Linked DNA regions of Homo sapiens: regions 2 and 3 are each linked to region 1. The links come from fine-mapping of genetic effects on gene expression. A gene starts in region 1. Each other region holds a variant in brackets. All regions are shown on one strand. Distances are from middle to middle. Region 1 holds the start of SLC35D2 (solute carrier family 35 member D2). Region 2 overlaps SLC35D2 (solute carrier family 35 member D2). Region 3 overlaps ZNF510 (zinc finger protein 510).

Region 1 (6,029 bases):
GGGTTTTGGAGGTGTTGACTGCCATGGTCAGTCAGCACCCTGCTCACTCAGGTGCACAAAATGAAGACTTATCTTCAACCATCATTGACATAATGACTGGCCACTCCCAAACAAGCCCATCAATAGCATTTTCATTTTCTGGTATTTTTTCTTTTTTTTTTTTGAGACTGAGTCTCACTCTATCGCCCAGGCTGGAGTGCAGTGGTGTGATCTCAGCTCACTGCAACCACTGCCTCCTGAGTTCAAGTGATTCTCCTGACTCAGCCTCCCAAGTAGCTGGGATTATAGGCGTGCACCACCATGCCCAGCTAGTTTTTTTTTGTTTGTTTTTTTTGTATTTTTAGTAGAGACAGGGTTTCACCATGCTGGCCAGGCTGGTCTCGAAATCCTGACCTCATGATCTGCCCACCTCAGGCTCCCGAAGTGCTGGGATTACAGGTGTGAGCCACCGCGCCCGGCCTTTTTTTTTTATCCTAAGTGTTTAAGTTTTCTTTTTCCTTCATTAGCTTCCATGTCAAATGCTCCAGGTTTAGGTACAGTATGTCCATGTTCATTTCCTTGAGGCAGGGCTGTGTTTTCCATGGACACCAGGCAGCAGGCTGCAACACACTGGAGAGACCTTGCCAAGAATACTGACGGCCACAGGATCACCAAAAAATATCCCAAATCCATCCCTTCCTTTTACCTCCGCTGCTATGCCCTGCCCAGTCCACGCCGTCTTTACCTGCAGCCCTGCAGTGGCTTCCAGCCCCTCTCCCTGATGCCAGTACTGTCAGTTCTCCACCCGCCTGCCAGCCAGAGAGATCTTTTTAATCACACAAATTGTGTCAGGTCACTCCCATGTCAAAACCTTCCAAGGGACTTCTAATTGCATTTAGCATGAAACTACAACTATTTATCCAGTCTCATCCTTCCACCCTGGTCCCCAGATGTCGGCTCTCAACACAGCAGCCACAGTGATTTAGATCATGTAATTCCCCTGCCTGACACCTTGCGTGGCTCCCATCTCATTCAGAGCTGATGCCAGAGCCCTGGCGGTGGCCTCCCAAGGCCCCACACAGGCCAGCAATCCATTACTCTCAGACCCCATCTGCTACCATTCCCATTCAAACTCTTCACTCCTCCAGGCCTGGAATGCTCTTCCCCCGTCCCCCAGTGTGGCTTATGTCCCCACCTCACTCTGGTCTTGGCTCCAATGCCACCTCCTTCTGAGGCTCCACTGATCACGCTCACACTGCATACTCTCCCCTCCCTCTCTCCCTCACTCCCTTTCCTGTTTTATTTTTTCCCCAGCACCTTGGTCACATCTGACATAATGTAAATGTTACTGGCTCATTTATTGGTCCACAAGGATGCAGCTCCGTGAAGTTAAGGATTCTGATCTGCTCTTTTCACTTCTCTTTCCCAAGAACGGTGGGAAAACACTGTTCTCCTCGAACAGTGCTGGTACATCACAAGTGCTTAGTGAAAGCTATCAAAAATGAGAGAAAGAGCTGACTCCTGCCTTCCCTGCCTACCTCCCCGCCCAGGCACAGTGATCTTCTCTCTGTTCCTCCAGCAGCCAAGCTCATGCCCACTTCAGCACATTGTACACTTGCTGCTCACTTCTACCTGGAATGCTCTGTGACAGCTACTCCAGCCCAGGCACTCTCACATCAGATCTGAAAGTGTCTCGTTTATTCATGAACCTACCTGTTTATTTTCTGTCTCCACCACTGAAGCAGAATCTCCAGAGCAGGGACCTTGTGCTGTTCACAGAGGCTTCCCTGGTGCTTGCAATGGGCTCAGTATTTAGTAGGTGCTTAATAAATATCTGTTGGAGGTACAACCAATCGAGCTTATGTGGGCCTCAGTTTTCTCGAATATAAAATAAGAAAGGTGAGGCTGGATGAGATAGTTTGCACCTGTAATCACAGCACTTTGGGAGGCCAAAGCAGGCCTAGACCAGCCTTGGAAACACACTGAGACCCCACCTCTACAAAAAATCAAAAAAATTGCCGGTGCAGTGGTGCACACCTATGGTCCCAGCTTCTCTGGAGGCTGCAGCAGAAGGATTGCTTGAACCCAGATGGTCGAGGCTGCAGTGAGTCATGATTGTGTCACTACACTCCAGCCTAGGCAACAGAGTGAAACCTTGTCTCAAAAAAATATTATACACACACACACACACACACACACACACACTATATATATATATATATATATGCCTGCCTTGGCCTCCCAAATGCTGTGATTACAGGTGCAAACCACCTCAGCCAGCCTCAGCTTTCGTATTTTATATTCGAGAAAAGTGAGACCCACATAAGCTGAATCTGTATGTATATATAAAAAAAGAAAGCTGATACTCTAAGATACTCTCTAACTAAGACACTCTAGGTCTCTTTGGGCTCTAAAATGTTGATGGCATATTCTTGTAACATAGTAGAGTTTACAAAGAGCCTTCACATATAACAGCTCGTGCAGAGCCCTGGAGGGTAATTAACACGATTGTAATCATTCAGGTTTTTTGCATCTGAAAAAAATTGCTGACTGTGAGACTGGTCCAAAAAGACAGGTGTTAACCGGTGGAGCTGGGTCTAAATCCACAATTTTCTCAGTGCCGCTACAATGGTAGCAGAATTAAGCAGGATTTTCTAGTCCTTACAAATAGGTTCAAGGCAGCACAAATTTGCGTTTACTTCACACTAATCCAAAAAAGTACTCCATATGAACTTCCAATTGTTTTCCCGAGTTTTCCATGAACACGCTGGTCATCTGAGAATGAACAGTCAATCAATACAGACTTACTGGCTCAGGAGTACCTGACCGTTGAACATGGAGATCTGTGTAAGGAATTGCGTCCTTTGAAGCAGGCATTTGAATCCCTGTTTTCAGCTCGCTGGGTGTATGAAAGAATCTGTCTGAGCTCTACCAGCCCACCTAGGACAGGGCGCCTCGCAGCAGGGCAGGCGCGCTCAGGAAGAGAACGACTTTCTCAGGTTGTGGCCTGAGTGTAGAAAGCTGAGCGAGTTCTGGAGGGCGCCTGGGAAACTCGACCAATGTGCCCAGCTGAGACTCGAGGGTCCCTGTCCCCACCCGCCCTGTCCCGGGCGCCGCTGAAGCGCACGGAGGACAGGGGCAGCCCCGCACTCCCGCAGACCCCCCGGCCCCGGGCCCCGCCTCACCCGTAGGTGGTCAGCAGCGCCTTGTTGACAAGCACGATGAGGAAGGAGCAGGTCCCGTAGAAGAGCGCCGACAGCAGCCGGGCCACCCGCGAGGGCAGCCGCGCCGCGCCGGGCTCCCCGCCAGCGCCCTCGGCCTCGGCCTGGCCGCCGGCCGTCATCTCCTGCGGCCCCGCGGACCCCGCCGCCCGCCAGCCCCGGCTGCGCACTGGTCCCGCCCGGCCGGGCCGGGGAAGAGGGCGCGGCAGGAACAGGAAGAGCCCGGCGCAATCCCAGGTCCCGACCCGCCCCCTGCGAGCGCCCGAGGCCGGCGCGGGAGGACCCTGCGCGCTGGACTTCACCCTGGTTCCAGGCACCTCCTTCGGTCTCCAGGGCCGGCAATGCGCTGGGGAGTTGAAAAGCGCTGCCTTCCTCCAGGCTTTCCTGGAAAGAAACGCTTCAGTAAGTCTCAGGGCTTGTTTTGCTTTTTTTTTTTTTTCCCTACAACTTTTTTGTTTAGTGTATAATTTACATACAATGAAGTGTACACATCTTGCCAGTCCATAGTTTGAGATGAGCTTCGACAAAGGCATCCACAGGAGTAACTACTCAAAACAACATTTCCATCGCCCCAAAAATTCCCCTTGCTGCCCCTTTGAAGTTAACGCCCGCATCTCATCGATGACTATTGCTGTAGGTTAGGTTTGCCTTTTCCGGAATTTCAAATAAACAGGGTGCTTTCTAGAATTTATGAATGAGCATGTGGTCTCAGGGGTTTTCACTCTATGCTTTGGACTCGACCATGTGGTTTGTTTAATCGTTGAATAGTATCACAAATTGTGTATCCATTGGTTGTTTCCAGTTTAGGACCATTAGGAAAAATGCTTCCATGAAAATTCGTGGGCGTTTGTGGGACCTGTGTCTTCATTTCTCTTAAATAAATATCTAGGAGTGGAGTGGCTAGGAGTAAGGTGGGTGAAGCCTTGGGACTTGGGTGTCCTCTGGGTGCTTTGTGGTAGGTGCATTCCTCGCGGAGGGCCGTTTGCCTTCGGGTCAGGTCAGTTGAAGGACAGCTTCCCAGAACCGCCTACCCTTGTCAGTCTTTAAAAAATATGAACTTTTGGCCAGGCGCGGTGGCTCACACATGTAATCCCAGCACTTTGGGAGACCGAGGCGGGCAGATCACGAGGTCAGGAGATCGAGACCATCCTGGCTAACACGGTGAAACCCCGTCTCTACTAAAGATACAAAAAAAATTAGCCGGGCGTGGTGGCGGGCGCCTGTAGTCCCAGCTACTCAGGAGGCTGAGGCAGGAGAATGGCGTGAACCCGGGAGGCAGAGCTTGCAGTGAGGCGAGATCGCGCCACTGCACTCCAGCCTGGGCGACAGAGCAAGCCTCCGTCTCAAAAATATATATATTATATATTTAATATATAATGTATATTATATATATATATATATATGAACTTTTAGCTTCTTAGAAAAGCTTAAGATTTCAAGTTAAATAAAAGTTGGGGCCTAACTATATAGATGCCCAGAGAATTGTTTTTCTACCCTTAGGCACTAAACAACCAGGAGAATGAAAACTGGGAAACATTTTCAGCCCTGATAAGAACTAAAGCAGAACTCGTGAAAATTAGCTAGCATTAAAAAGACCAGAAGTGCCCAAGTTACCCAAAACAAGAAAGAAAAGACATGTTAAGTCCGTTTTAAAAGAGAAAATGAATCCATATTCAAGTTAAACAGGAAATCGGTCATTTTGGTTAATTTCCTCAGAACATTCAATTTTCTTGTGAGTCTCCAAATGTTTTGACTGCAAAAAGAATATTTTAAAGTTATTTTTAATGATGACCTTCATCATAATTGCATTTAGTTTGATTGTATACACATACTTCCAGGACCTTACCTCGCTGTCAAAATCCCATCCTTACCCTGTTTAAACAGCAACTCACACTAAGGAGTTGCTTGTGATATTCTTCTGCACAAGGGTAGGACAGGCTGACCCTTGCCACTGCAAATACACAACTAAAGATCTACCAAAAATAACTGATGAAAAAAGAAAACCAATTTGCTAGACTCTTAGAAAAGTACACAGGCTTTAAATGGATTCTTGAGGAGCTGACCCCAGAGACAACCCATCCTAAATGTAAGTGAAATGAAATCCCTTTTCCTTATTACCCTAATTTAAGGCCTGGAAATGGGGTGGCAATAGTTCAATACTTATCCACAGCAGTATATTTTTAACACTGTAGTAATGAACCCGATGAGGAAGTTAAATATCTATAACCTTAAAAGCCATAATTAAAGTAAGAAAAAGCAATCCACACTGTACTTACAACTACGCAAACATGTACTGAAATAATACTGATGGCTGAACATAAGGCTGTAGGTGATGTTTCTATCTTTTAAATTTTTTTATATCATGGTTATTATATTTTCGATAGGAAAACAAATGATAAAGGCTTTAAGAATGACCGTGTACTTTAAATTTTAAATTAAAATAAATTTTTATTCAAAGCATCTTTTAAAATTACAGCATGTTTATTCTTATGCTGTTAACTCTGCCAAACTACAACTTAGCCATATGAAGCATAAAACACTTCAAAAATTTGAATGTAAACCATTTTTTAAAACAAAAAGCAGTCTTAACACACCTCAAATTTTAGATACCAATGTATTTTTCCAAGTATATAGCTTATATCAAAAAGAACATTTTAAATGTTTCTAAATAGTTGTGATAATTTCTTAAACTGTTGCAATTATACAAATAAAAAATGTTTATGAAAAAACTATTAGAGTTGACAAAAGCTGACTGGAGAAACAAGGAAAAACCCTTACTTTTGAAGGCCTTAAATGTTATCATCTGTGAATTGGCAAATATTTGTATTT
Region 2 (6,029 bases), 38 kb before region 1:
TCACTGCAACCTCTGCCTCCCAGGTTCAAGTGATTCTCCTGCCTCAGCCTCCTGAGAAGCTGGGATTACAGGCACCCGCCACCATGCCTGGCTTATTTTTGTATTTTTACTACTACTAAAAATACTCTCTACAAATGGGGTTTCATCACGTTGGCCAGGCTGGTCTCAAACTCCTGACCTCAGGTGATCTGCCTGCCTCGGCCTCCCAAAGTGCTGGGGTTACTGGTGTGAGCCACCTCGCCTGGCCAAGAGTTCATAATTTTGTTTTGTGTAATGTTGGAGCACTGACTCAGTTTAAAATTGATTGATGGTAGCTGAAAAACAAATACTGTGTTTTCAGGTATCATGCCCTGCTCATTCTTACTAGAGAGGTGCAGGTGCCCGCTTTATCTTCCAAAACGGAATTAACAGGGAGGCTCAGGTTCACAACGTTCTAAATAACCCGAAAAAGAGAGCTCTTTATCGAGATTGGTGCCACTTGGTAGTTTTCCATATAAACCCGTGGAAATGGCTGTTTGTGCCCGGGGACGAGGTTGCTAAGCCCTTCTGCTGATCCCTCCTTCTGGGAAGAGAATTGGACAAGTGAGAAAGTCCAGCTGGAGAAAGAACAAGGAGCTGCCCAGGAGTCCACAGCAGCCTGCAGCCTTTCAGAGTCACTCAGACCCTAAAAGAGCTGCAAATGGGATTGACTTTCAACTGGTGGGCAACATACACCCATGCTGATTGCTAAATATGGAAACACTGTCCTGTCCATGGGTAAATGGGTGCTGCCCCAGCCCCAGGCCAGCAATGACGGGGTTATCGCCTGGCTGGTCAGGGCTGTGTCCGGAGTCGAGTCTGTGGGTGGAGGTCCCGCTGAGGAGGGTTTTGCCCATCGCATCTCGTTTCTCACAGTCACTTACACATCAGCAAAGTTCTCAGAGGCTGTGTGGCCCGCGACTTCCTGAAGAAGTCCGGGCTTGCACCCTTCGGGGTGGCCACTGGAGCTGTCACTATGGAGAATGTCCACACGTCCTGAGAGACTTGGCCTCCACCGCTCCACTGGGCCTCAGATCTTACCACTAATTTACCATTTTATTTGTCTCTCACCAGCAGCAGATACGGTTTCAGGGCAAATGCTGAAAGAACAACACCTTCCCAAAATTCAAATGTGGATCCTGGAATATTTAGAGGTAAAATGGCGTGATGGCTGGGATAGGTTTTAAAATACTCCAGAGGAACAAAAAGCTGGGGATGGATGAGGACAGATAAAATAAGATGGCAAAATGCCAAAGTGTTGAAGCTAGGTGGTGGGTCCCTGACAACTCATTGAATTACTCTATTTTGTGCATGTTTCAAAATGTCCGTAATAGAAAGTAACAAATAAATAAACAAACCTATGTTTTAAAATGATCAAAATCCCCTTCTAGGGTAAGTAGCTCTCCCAGGGTCCCCACATTAGCAAAGGGGGATATGGAATTCAAACTCAGATTTGTATTGTTGTTTTCCAAAAAGTACCAAGTCCAGAGTTCTTGGCTCTCCTTGATATGTGGCTAAGGATAAATGCCAATGCAAGGGTAGTGCCAAAAGGTGTTACTAGGGATATCAAACATCTTGTTATCATGTACCCTCCTGGTAGTCCTAGCTAACTTTACACTTTTTGTTTCAGTGCATATCAAATGTTAAATATTAAATTTTTTAAAGCCAGCTAAGGAAAACTGTAATGATTGTCATCAGCTCACCTGTTGCAGGTCTCCAGTGGAGACACTAATAATAAGAGTTGGGATAATCATGAAGCAGGCATTGTAGAAAAGTACTCCGTATTTCCCTAGCTCCTGCAAAAACAAAAATGTAAAAACCACTCAGTTTCAGAAACGTGAGGCACAGATTTCCTGGAGCCATTTATACAACTGCATATTCATGCGAAGTTAGAATGTGCATTCTGAGCAACTCTTTTGGAATATTTTCAGCAAATTTCTGACATAAAATGCTTTGGTTTGAGGGTACTGAGATTTTGGAATAAACATTTGTTTTACACCAAAACTACAGAGAAAACGCATGGCAGTGGGAAGCCTCTAGGGTTCCATTCATCTCCAGCATTCTAATTATGTGGGGTTTTTTTTAAAGCATGTAATTCAAAATGGGAAATCTGGAACAAAATAAAGAACATTAAAAATGTTAATATAAACAAAACTCTTTAAAAACATCTGCTCTTTCCATTAAAGGACAGCAGCATCATATATTTACTTTCATTAAAGTGGCCACACCACTTCACCATTTTCAAAAAAGGATGACATATTGTGATCCTCAAAAGACAACAAACCTGTTTTTGCAAAACTTCTACCGTTAAAAAAAAAAAAAAAAAAAAGGCCATGCAGGGGAAAAAAAAAAAAAACAGAGCAGATAAAAAAAAAAAAAAAAGAGCAGATTAAAAAAAATAGCTCATGGAAATAAGCCTGTTGGTCAGAGTGAACTCCCTCATCCAGCACAAAGAGCTTGGAACAAAGAAACATATGCCTGACTCATCCTCCGGGCTTCCTTGTAACAGCTGGGGGTGGGGGAGGGATGGGGGAGGGGGAGGGATGGGGCCTCCACGTGACAGGCAGCCACACAAAAGCAAAGCTCCTCTGCCCCACCCCTCATCATCAGAAGCAGCAGCTATTGCTGGACAAGACCTTACAAATTATCCATTGCAGTCATTTCATTCCACAGATAAGGAAACTGAAGTTTGGAGAAGTTAAGGTTCAAAGTCACAACAGTCAGTAAGTAGAAAAACTTGTGTCTGTAGCCCACATCTCCAGACTCCAAACTAGCGCTCTCTGAACAAATATCGTGACCCCTGACCTTGCCTTGGTGATTGATGATGCTGGTAAAAAAATTAATTTGCCTTTCAGAATAATCCCTTTTTATATGTTCTGAGTGTGCATCTAAACTAGTGGCTTTTCCCATCATATCTCATTTTCACCCAAAATTTCGCAAATAATAACTTATACAGACAAGATAATTGAAAATAAGGAATTTACAGGTCATATTATATAAATTAAATTACATTCCAACTGTACACATTCATTTTCATTTTTCATATAATTCTAGGGGCCAGATGACAGAGCCAAAAAGCCATAGGCAAGGTCTGGTACCTTTGGGTCCATTTTCTGTTTGGTATAAACTCCATTTGCTGCTGTGAAGATATCATTCAGGAATACAAAAATATAGCCTTCTAAGTTAAAAGCAAGGTCAGACCT[G/T]GGAGGGAGACCACAAAGGGAGAATGATTACTCAAAAACTCACAACTTGGCCTCCAAGCCCGCCTGATCTACCTTTCCCTAATCAAACCCACTTTTCTGTGGCACACTTTCCCCGCTTTGTGGTAGTGAATGATTAATTCCTCTGCTTTGCCTCCAGACAAAAACCAAACCAGCCCATCAGATGGCTTCGACTCAATCGTGAATGGCTTAAAACCAGAGCGACATTAAGCATCTTCCTTCAACTGCAACCCCTTTCTTTCGCTAGCTGATGAATCCACATAATAACTGGTGAGCCCTGACTTTCCTAAGGGGAGTGATTCGCCCCGATCCACCCAGGGGCTCTGCTTATTGTAGTGAACAGGGCCACCTCCAGGGTGCAGCCAGTGAGGGGCAGCTGGGCAGAGGCTGGGTAAGAGGGGTCGCATGAGGCAGCCACACCTCCATCTGGTGCCCAAACCGCACCCCGTCCATCAAAATGGCAAGGCAGGTATCCATCCTTCTATGTGACCCCTCTATGGCTCCTTTCTTCCCATTCTTTTGAAACAGCTTCTCTTCCATTTCCATTATAAATAGCACCAGCATAAATACGTTTGGGGATCTATGACAGGAACAAGAGGAAGAGCAATAGCTGAGCCATGATGTGGCCCACCCACCTGCACTTGATCGTTGCAGACAGTGCTAGGCCATGTCATAATTCAGAAATACACATTGCCAGGGAGGAAAACCTTTTCCTGTACCCTCTTAGATTCAGTGTCTGGGGGCCTGCTAATTTAACTGATAAAAGACAGATTAACAGGAGAAAGAGAATACGAATCTTATTAATATGTTCCCTGAAGTTCACAGAAAAGAAGTGAAACTCAAAGAAACAGTTAGACTTGGGGACTTACGTTTTAAAAAGGAAAGAGGATTTGGGCTTCAAGGAACAAATAAATTGTGTAATTGTTAGAAAGTAACTAGGAAACCTATGGTGGAAATGATGAACGAGAAGGGTTCTTTTAGGGTTTGTTTATGCAGATGCATCTCAGGGCCGACCCTCCGTCCAGTGATAGGAATTGCTCTCCTCTTCCTGGGATGGGAGAAGCGGTCCTCTTCACAATGGGAAATTGATTCCCTGGTTTTTAGGCAGAAAGGAGAAGGCAGCAAACTTCCTGATCTGTTGATTCTCAATCTTTCTCGGCTCAAAATAATCCTGATCTCACAGTGGCACAGTTTGCAGTGGCATACCCTGAATCTTCTTCAATGTCAAAATAAGATTATTTCTAACCAAAGAGAATGAAACACAGAGCAAAAATTCTACCAAAATCTGAATGCAAATTAAATTGGATTTTTGCTTGACGCCTCCACACATTATTATCTACAAATATATTTGTGAGAAGGGAAATTAATTTTAGTCATCATAAGTCAGAATTCTCCCTCAGTCACAATTTAAAAAAAAAAAAAAAAGGATTTTTGGCCAGGCGTGGTGGCTCCTGCCTGTAATCCCAGCACTTTGGGAGGCCAAGGTGGGTGGATCACCTGAGGTCGGGAGTTCGAAACCAGCCTGACCAACATGGAGAAATCCCATCTCTACTAAAAATACAAAATTAGCTGGGCGTGGTGGCACATGCCTGTAATCCCAGCTACTTGGGAGGCTGAGGCAGGAGAATCACTTGAACCAGGGAGGCAGAGGTTGTGGTGAGCCAAGATCGTGCCTCCAGCCTGAGCAACAAGAGCGAAACTCTGTCTCAAAAGGATTTTCTTCAAAATAAGGGTCTTCCAAATTTCTTACCTACCCACATGTGATTCAGCGTGAAGAAGAGCAGAGTCTGCCGCCCCCTGAGACAGCAGAGCCAAGTGAGTGGAAAGGGGATGGGGGGAGATGCTGCCCACCTCCTGGGAGAGCTGCAGGGGAACTCCTACTCAGGGGACCAAGAGTTCCCAGCAGCGCTGTTCCCACTCCCGGAAGCCTGGGTCACTGTCAGGCAGCTTACCCACTGTTTGTTTAGGCCAGTGGTGACAGCACAGACATTTCTGAAGAATTTACTTGTTTAATCAATTAGAGCAGATTCATGTAACCCTTGCAGTTGTTCAAGCGATCCTCCCATCTCAGTCTCCTGAGTAGCTGGGACTACAGGCATGTGCCACCATGCCCGGCTAATTTTTTTACTTTTATTTTTGTAGAGACAGGGTTTCATTATGTTGCCAGGGCTGGTCTCGAACTCCTGGGCTCAAGCAATCCCGTCACCTGGGCCTCCCAAAGTACTGGGATTGTCAGAGGCGTGTGAACCCGAGCAACTCCATCTTAAATAGGAGCTGGGTAAAATGAAGCTGAAACCTACTGGGCTGCATTCCCAGGCGGTTAAGGCATTCTAAGTCACAGGATGACATAGGAAGCCGGCACAAAATACAAATCATAAAGACCTTGCTGATAGGCCAAAACCCACTGAAACTAAAATGGCCACAAAAGTGACCTGTGGTCATCCTCACTGCTACACTCCCGCCAGCGCCGTGACAGTTTACAAATGCCAGGGCAATGTCAGGAAGCTACCCTATATGGTCTAAAAGGGGAGACATGAATAATCCACCCCTTGTTTAGCAAATCATCAAGAAATAACCATTAAAAATGGGCAACCAGCAGCTCTGGGGCTGCTCTTTCTATGGAGTGGCCATTCTTTTATTCCTTTACTTTCTTAATAAACTTGCTTTCACGCTGCACTGCAGACTCGCCCTGAATTCTTTCTTCCACAAGATCCAAGAACCCTCTCTTGGGGTCTGGATCAGGACCCTTTCCTGTAACAGGATTACAGGCATGGGCTACCACACCCAGCC
Region 3 (6,029 bases), 380 kb after region 1:
GTCAGCAAATTATGGCCTTTGGGCCAAATCTGGCTTGCCAGTTTTTTGTGTATGTGTGGTAAAGACAGTGTCTTGCTATGTTGCCTAGGCTAATCTTGAACTCCTGGCCTCAAGTGATCCTCCCACCTTGGCCTCCAAAAGCTCTGGGATTATAAGTGTGAGTCACTGTACCTGGCCACTTACCGCTTTTTAAATAAAGTCAGTTGGCACACAGGCACACCCAATCATGTTGCATTGTTTATGGCTGTTTTTGTGCTGAAATAGCACTGAGAAGTTCCATCAGAGACCTTATGATTGTCAAAACTGAAAATATTTATTACTTGCCTTTATAGAAAAAAATGTACCATTCTCTGGACTAAATAATAGTATTAAAGAAAAGATAAAGTATAATACAACAACAAAGGAAACATTATATATATAGGGATTATGGAGATTGAAAGTAAAAGGATGGAAAAAGATATACCATATAATCAAAACCAAAAGATAGTTGATATGACTGCATTACTATCATATACAGTAGACTTTAAGGTAAGAAAGAGGTATAAAAAATGAGTAACGGGCCGGGTGCGGTGGCTCATGCCTGTAATCCTAGCACTTTGGGAGGCCGAGGCAGGCGGATCACGAGGTCAGGAGTTTGAGACCAGCCTGACCAACGTGGTGAAACCCCATCTCTATTAAAAATACAAAAATTAGCCGGGTGTGGTGGTGAGTGCCTGTAATCCTAGCTACTCAGGAGGCTGAGGCAGGAGAATCGTTTGGACCTGGGAGGCGGAGGTTGCAGTGAGCTGAGATCGCGCCACTGCACTCCAGCCTGGGTGACAGAGTGAGATTCTTGTATAAAAAACAACAACAACAACAACAACAAAAAACTGAGTAACGATTTGTAATGACAAAACAGTCCTTTCAATAGAAGATACAACAAATCAAAATTGCTATGCACCTGGCAAACATAGCGTCCAATTAGCATTTCTTATTATTCACGGATTACGTATTTGTAAATTCACACACTAAAATTATTTGCAACCTCAAAATCAACACTTGCAGTTATTTTGCAGTCATTTGTGGACATGTACAGGAAGGTAAAAAATTTGAATTGCCTGACCTACATGTTCCCAGATGAGGCTCAACAAGGTGATCTGCTTTCTTGTTTCAGCTCTGATACTGTAAATAAGTGTCCACTTCTCAGTCTATTTAGTGCCATATTTACTGCATTTTTGTGCTTTTTCTTGATGATTTCACTTTTTCTTTTTTTTTTTTGAGACAGAGTCTTGCTCTGTTGCCAGGCTGGAGTGCAGTGATGTGATCTCGGCTCACTGCAACCCCCGCCTCCCAGGTTCAAGCAATTATCCTGCCTCAGCCTCCTGAGTAGTTGGGACTACAGGCACGTGCCACCACGCCCAGCTAATTTTTGTATTTTTAGTAGAGATGGGGTTTCACCATGTTGGCCATGATGGTCTCCATCTCCTGACCTCGTGATCCACCCACCTCGGCCTCCCAAAGTGCTGGGATTACAGACGTGAGCCACTGCGCCTGGCCGATGATTTCACTTTTTAAATGGCCTATATGTATAACAGTTATGTGCTGTCTAGTGTGCCTATGTGCAAGAAGCCTGTGGTATGGCTCATGGAGAAAATATCTATGTTAGATAAGATTCATTCAGGCATTAGTTATGGTGTTGTTGGCCATTAGTTCAATCATTATAAACCAACAATATTAAATAAGGTGTCTTTATGCAGAAAGACACACAAAAAGATTATGTACTGACTGGCTGACAAAAATGTGACTAGAGGCTTAACCCCATATTTCTCCTCTGAGTAATGGTTCAGTATTTATTAGTTCAGTGTTTGTAGTGACTTTTTGGAACATTACTACTGAGAATTATGAGAACTGACTGTATATAAACAAAAGTTGATAGAAATGAGATATCAATCTACAATTTTAATTAGTGATTTTAATGTAACTCTCCCAGTAACTCATAGAAAAGCAGATTAAGAAAAACCAACAGGGATATAGAACAGGAGTCAGTGAACTACAGCACAAAGGTCAAATCCAGCTCACCACTACTATTTTTTTTTTTTTGTAAATGAAAAATACCACCACTACCAATTTTTTTTTTTTGTAAATAAAGTTTTCTTGGAACACAGCCACATTCATTTGTTTATGTATTATCTATGGCTGCTTAACACTACAGCTGCAGAGTTTGGTAGATGCAACAGAGACTGTATCTCTCACAAAGGCTACTATCTGACATTTACAGAAAGTTTTCTGACCACTGATATAGAAGATTGAAAAGACATAATTAACCAACCTGACTGACATATATAGGATAACCTCTGCATAACATAACTCTCTGGTTTCCTTTGCACATTAAAAAAAAAGGACAGTCTATCTCACTAAATTACAAAAAATTACAATCATACAGCGTAGCTTTAGATCTTAGCTTAGAGATGTAGAGAGCTGATAAAAGCAACGCTAACATCCTTACAAGAACATAGCT[G/C]GGAAAACAGAAAATTAGTATCTTTTTTTCAAACTATTAGGAGAGAGAGAGACGAGACAGGCACCTGCAGGGAGAATCAGGATGTGCTCATTTGCTTACTGGAGCAGATGCTACTCAACTCCATCTAATACAATTAGGAAGATAAAACTAGAAAAATTTAACCTGCTAAAGGCAAATGTGTACTAGTTTGAGTGTGTGAAGTCCCTGGGGGCCATACACATAGGTGGATTTTCACCTCGCTACAGGATCAAAGGGAAAATCAAAAGAGAAATGAGGCTGGGCATGGTGGTTCACGCCTATAATTCCAGCACTTTGGGAGGCTGAGGCAGGCGAATCACTTGAGGTCAGGAGTTCGAGACCAGCCTAGCCAACATGGTGAAACCCTGTCTCTACTAAAAATAGAAAAATTAGCCAGGTGTGGTGGTGCGTGCCCATAATCCCAGCTACTCGGGTGTCTGAGGCAGGAGAATTGCTTGAACCCGGGAGGTGGAGGTTGCAGTGAGCTGATATCGTGCCACTACACTCCAGCCTGGGTGATAGAGCGAGACTCTGTCTCAAAAAAACAAAACAAAACAAAACAAAACAAACCCCTGAGACCCAGAAATTAGAAAATACATTGAGATTACTCACAATGAATACACAAAATACCAAAATGCATGAGATGCAGCTAAGGCAGTGCTAAGTGTGAAATTTATAGCTGTAACACCTATATTAAAAATGATCCCAAATCAGTATCCTAATTGTATACTTTAAGGAACTAAATGAGGTGGGGACCTTACTACTAACCTTACAAAATAAAAAAGACTATAATAAAGAATACAGTGAACTGTATAGCAACAAATTACATAACCAAGATGAAGTGGACAAATTCCTAGAAACACACAAACCACCAAAATGGACTCAAAAAGAAACAGAACATCCGAACAGACTGATATAAGACTGAATCAGTAATCCAAATCCTCCCAACAAAGAAAGGCTCAAGACCAACTGTCAGTCTGTCTTTAAATGTTTGGTGAATTCTACCAAACATTTAAAGAAAAACTAACACCAATCCTTCTCTAATTCTTCCAAAAATAGAAGATGAGTGAACATTTCCTAACTCATTCTATGAGTTACCTTGAACCAAAGCCAGATAAAAAAATCACCCAAAAACTATGATATGTATCCCTTCTGAATATGTGTGCAGAAGTTTTCAACAAAATACTCGCAAACCAAATCTTGCAACAAATAAAAAGTACTATATACCATGACCAAGTACAATTTATTTCCAGGAATGCAAGGTGGCTCACCATAAGAAAATAAATCAGTGTAATATATCACAATAATAAAATGAAGAAAACAAGTCACACGATCATCTCAACTGATGCAGAAAAAGCATTTGACAAAAATATCCTTTCATGATAAAAACAAACATTTAACATGGTAGGACTAGAATAGAACTGCTGCAACACAATAAAAAGCATTTCTGAAAAACCACAGCTAACAGAATACGCTAGGCTAAAAAACAAGAAGGTTTCTTCCAAATATCAGGAATAAGACAGGGATGCCTGCTTTCATCATTTCTATTCATTATACTGGAAGTTCTAGCTAGAGGAAATAGGTAAGACAAAAATGCATCCAAATTGGAAAGAAAAAAGTAAAACTATCTCTATTCTCAGAGACCATGAGATTTAATACATGGAAAAGACTAAGGAAGCCACAAAAAACTATTAGAGCCAATAAATGAATTCATCAAAATTGTAGGATACAAGATGAACACACAAGAATCATTTATCTCTCTAAATACTAGCAATGAATAATAAAAAAGAAAACAATTCCACTTACAATAGAACAAAAAATAATAAAATAGGAATAAATTTAACCAAGAAGGTACATGACTTATACGTGAACACTAGAAAACACTGCTAGAAGAAATCAGAGGACCCAAATAAATGGAAAGACACCTTGTGTTCATGAATTGGAAGATTTAAAATTGTTAAGATGACAATACTCCCAAAAGTGATATACAGATTCAGTGAAATCTATATCAAAATCCTAATGACCTTTCTGCAGAAATGTTGAACCTACAATTTATATGAAATTGCAAGGGACCCTGAATAGTCAAAACAATCTAGAAAAAAAAGAAAAAAAATTGGAGGGATTACATTTCCTGATTTAAAAACTTATTATAAAGCAACAGTAATCAAGAGAGTGTGGTACTGGCATAAATACAGACATACAGATCCACAGAATAGCACTGAGAGCCCAGAAATAAACCCATACATTGGCCATTTATTAGGAAAAAAATAGTTTTCAACAGATGATGCTGGGATAACTGAATCTCATCAAAATAATGAAGCTGGACTCCTACCTTATACTGTATTTTAAAATTGCCTCAAAACAGCCAGGTGTGGTGCCTCACACCTGTAATCCCAGCACTTTAGGAGGCTGAGGCAGACAGATCACTTGAGATCAGGAGTTCATGACCAGCCTGGTCAACATGGTGAAACTCCGTCTCTACTGAAAAAATATAAAAATTACCCGGGCATTGTGGTGCATGCCTGTAATTCCAGCTACTCGGAAGGCTGAGGTGGGAGAATCACTTGAACCCAGGAGAAGGACGTTGCAGTGAGCCAAGATCGTGCCACTGGATTCCAGCCTGGGCAACAGACAAAGATTCCGTCTCCAAAAAAAAAAAAAATTGGCCTTAAAAGGGATCAAAGACCTAAATATAAGAGTTTAACTGCATGACTCTTAGATGAAATCAGGAGTAAACCTTTATGACCTTGGATTTGGCAATGACTTCCTGGATATGATACCAAAGAAAAAAAAATTGGACTTCATCACAATTAAACTTTTGTGCAAAGGATACCATCAAGATAGTGAAAAGAACCTACAGAATAGGAGAAAATATTCACAAATACTACATTTAATAAATGTCTAGTAGCCAGAATACATAAAGAACTCTTATAACTGAACAACAAAAAATGTAATCCAAAATGGGCAAAGGACTTGGATAGACATTTCTCCAAAGATGATAAACAAATAGCCAATAAGCGCATGAAAAGATGTTGAATGTCATTAATCAAGGAAATGCAAATCAAAGTTAAATGATACCACTTCACACCCACTAGGATGTCCATAATTTTAAAAAAAGGGAAAATAACAAGTGGTTTTAATGATGTGGAGAAAGTGGAACCCTAATACACTGCTGGTGGGAATGTAAAATGGTGCAGCCACTGTGGAAAACAGTTTGGCAGTTACCAAAAAAGATAAGTCAAGAGTTACCATATGAGTCAGAAGTTCCTTTTCTAGGATTAGTCCCAAGAGAAAACAGGTGTCCAAACAAAAACTTGTACATGAATGTTAATAGCAGCACTAGTCATAACAGTCAAAAGGGAGAAACAATCCAAATGCTCATCAGTTGAATGAATAAACAATGTGGTATATCCACACAATGGAATATTATTCAGTCACAAAAAGGAATGATGTACTGATACGTACAACATGGATGAACCTTGAAAACAGTATGCTAAGTAAAAAGGATAGTCAC

Evidence for each region.
Region 2: its variant is fine-mapped to the expression of SLC35D2 in whole blood (TOPMed, PIP above 0.99).
Region 3: its variant is fine-mapped to the expression of SLC35D2 in whole blood (TOPMed, PIP 0.97).

The regions. Positions count from the first base shown.
Region 1 is chr9:96,380,313-96,386,341 of GRCh38, forward strand. SLC35D2 (solute carrier family 35 member D2) reads right to left here and starts at 3,399. Exons shown (of 12, transcript NM_007001.3): 1 at 3,165-3,399. The coding sequence starts at 3,322. It overlaps ZNF367 (zinc finger protein 367), which reads right to left. Exons shown (of 5, transcript NM_153695.4): 5 at 5,629-6,029. It overlaps SLC35D2-HSD17B3 (SLC35D2-HSD17B3 readthrough), which reads right to left and starts at 3,399. Exons shown (of 26, transcript NR_182427.1): 1 at 3,165-3,399. RefSeq lists silencers at 2,998-3,047, 3,058-3,387.
Region 2 is chr9:96,342,183-96,348,211 of GRCh38, forward strand. SLC35D2 (solute carrier family 35 member D2) reads right to left here. Exons shown (of 12, transcript NM_007001.3): 7 at 3,117-3,219; 8 at 1,722-1,814. SLC35D2-HSD17B3 (SLC35D2-HSD17B3 readthrough) reads right to left here. Exons shown (of 26, transcript NR_182427.1): 7 at 3,117-3,219; 8 at 1,722-1,814. Among named protein-coding and RNA genes, the nearest start is that of SLC35D2, 39 kb to the right of the region's middle. RefSeq lists enhancers at 296-820, 821-1,344. The variant G/T (reference allele first, on the strand shown) is at 3,222.
Region 3 is chr9:96,764,275-96,770,303 of GRCh38, forward strand. The region is part of intron 3 of ZNF510 (zinc finger protein 510); the gene reads right to left. Among named protein-coding and RNA genes, the nearest start is that of ZNF510, 11 kb to the right of the region's middle. The variant G/C (reference allele first, on the strand shown) is at 2,498.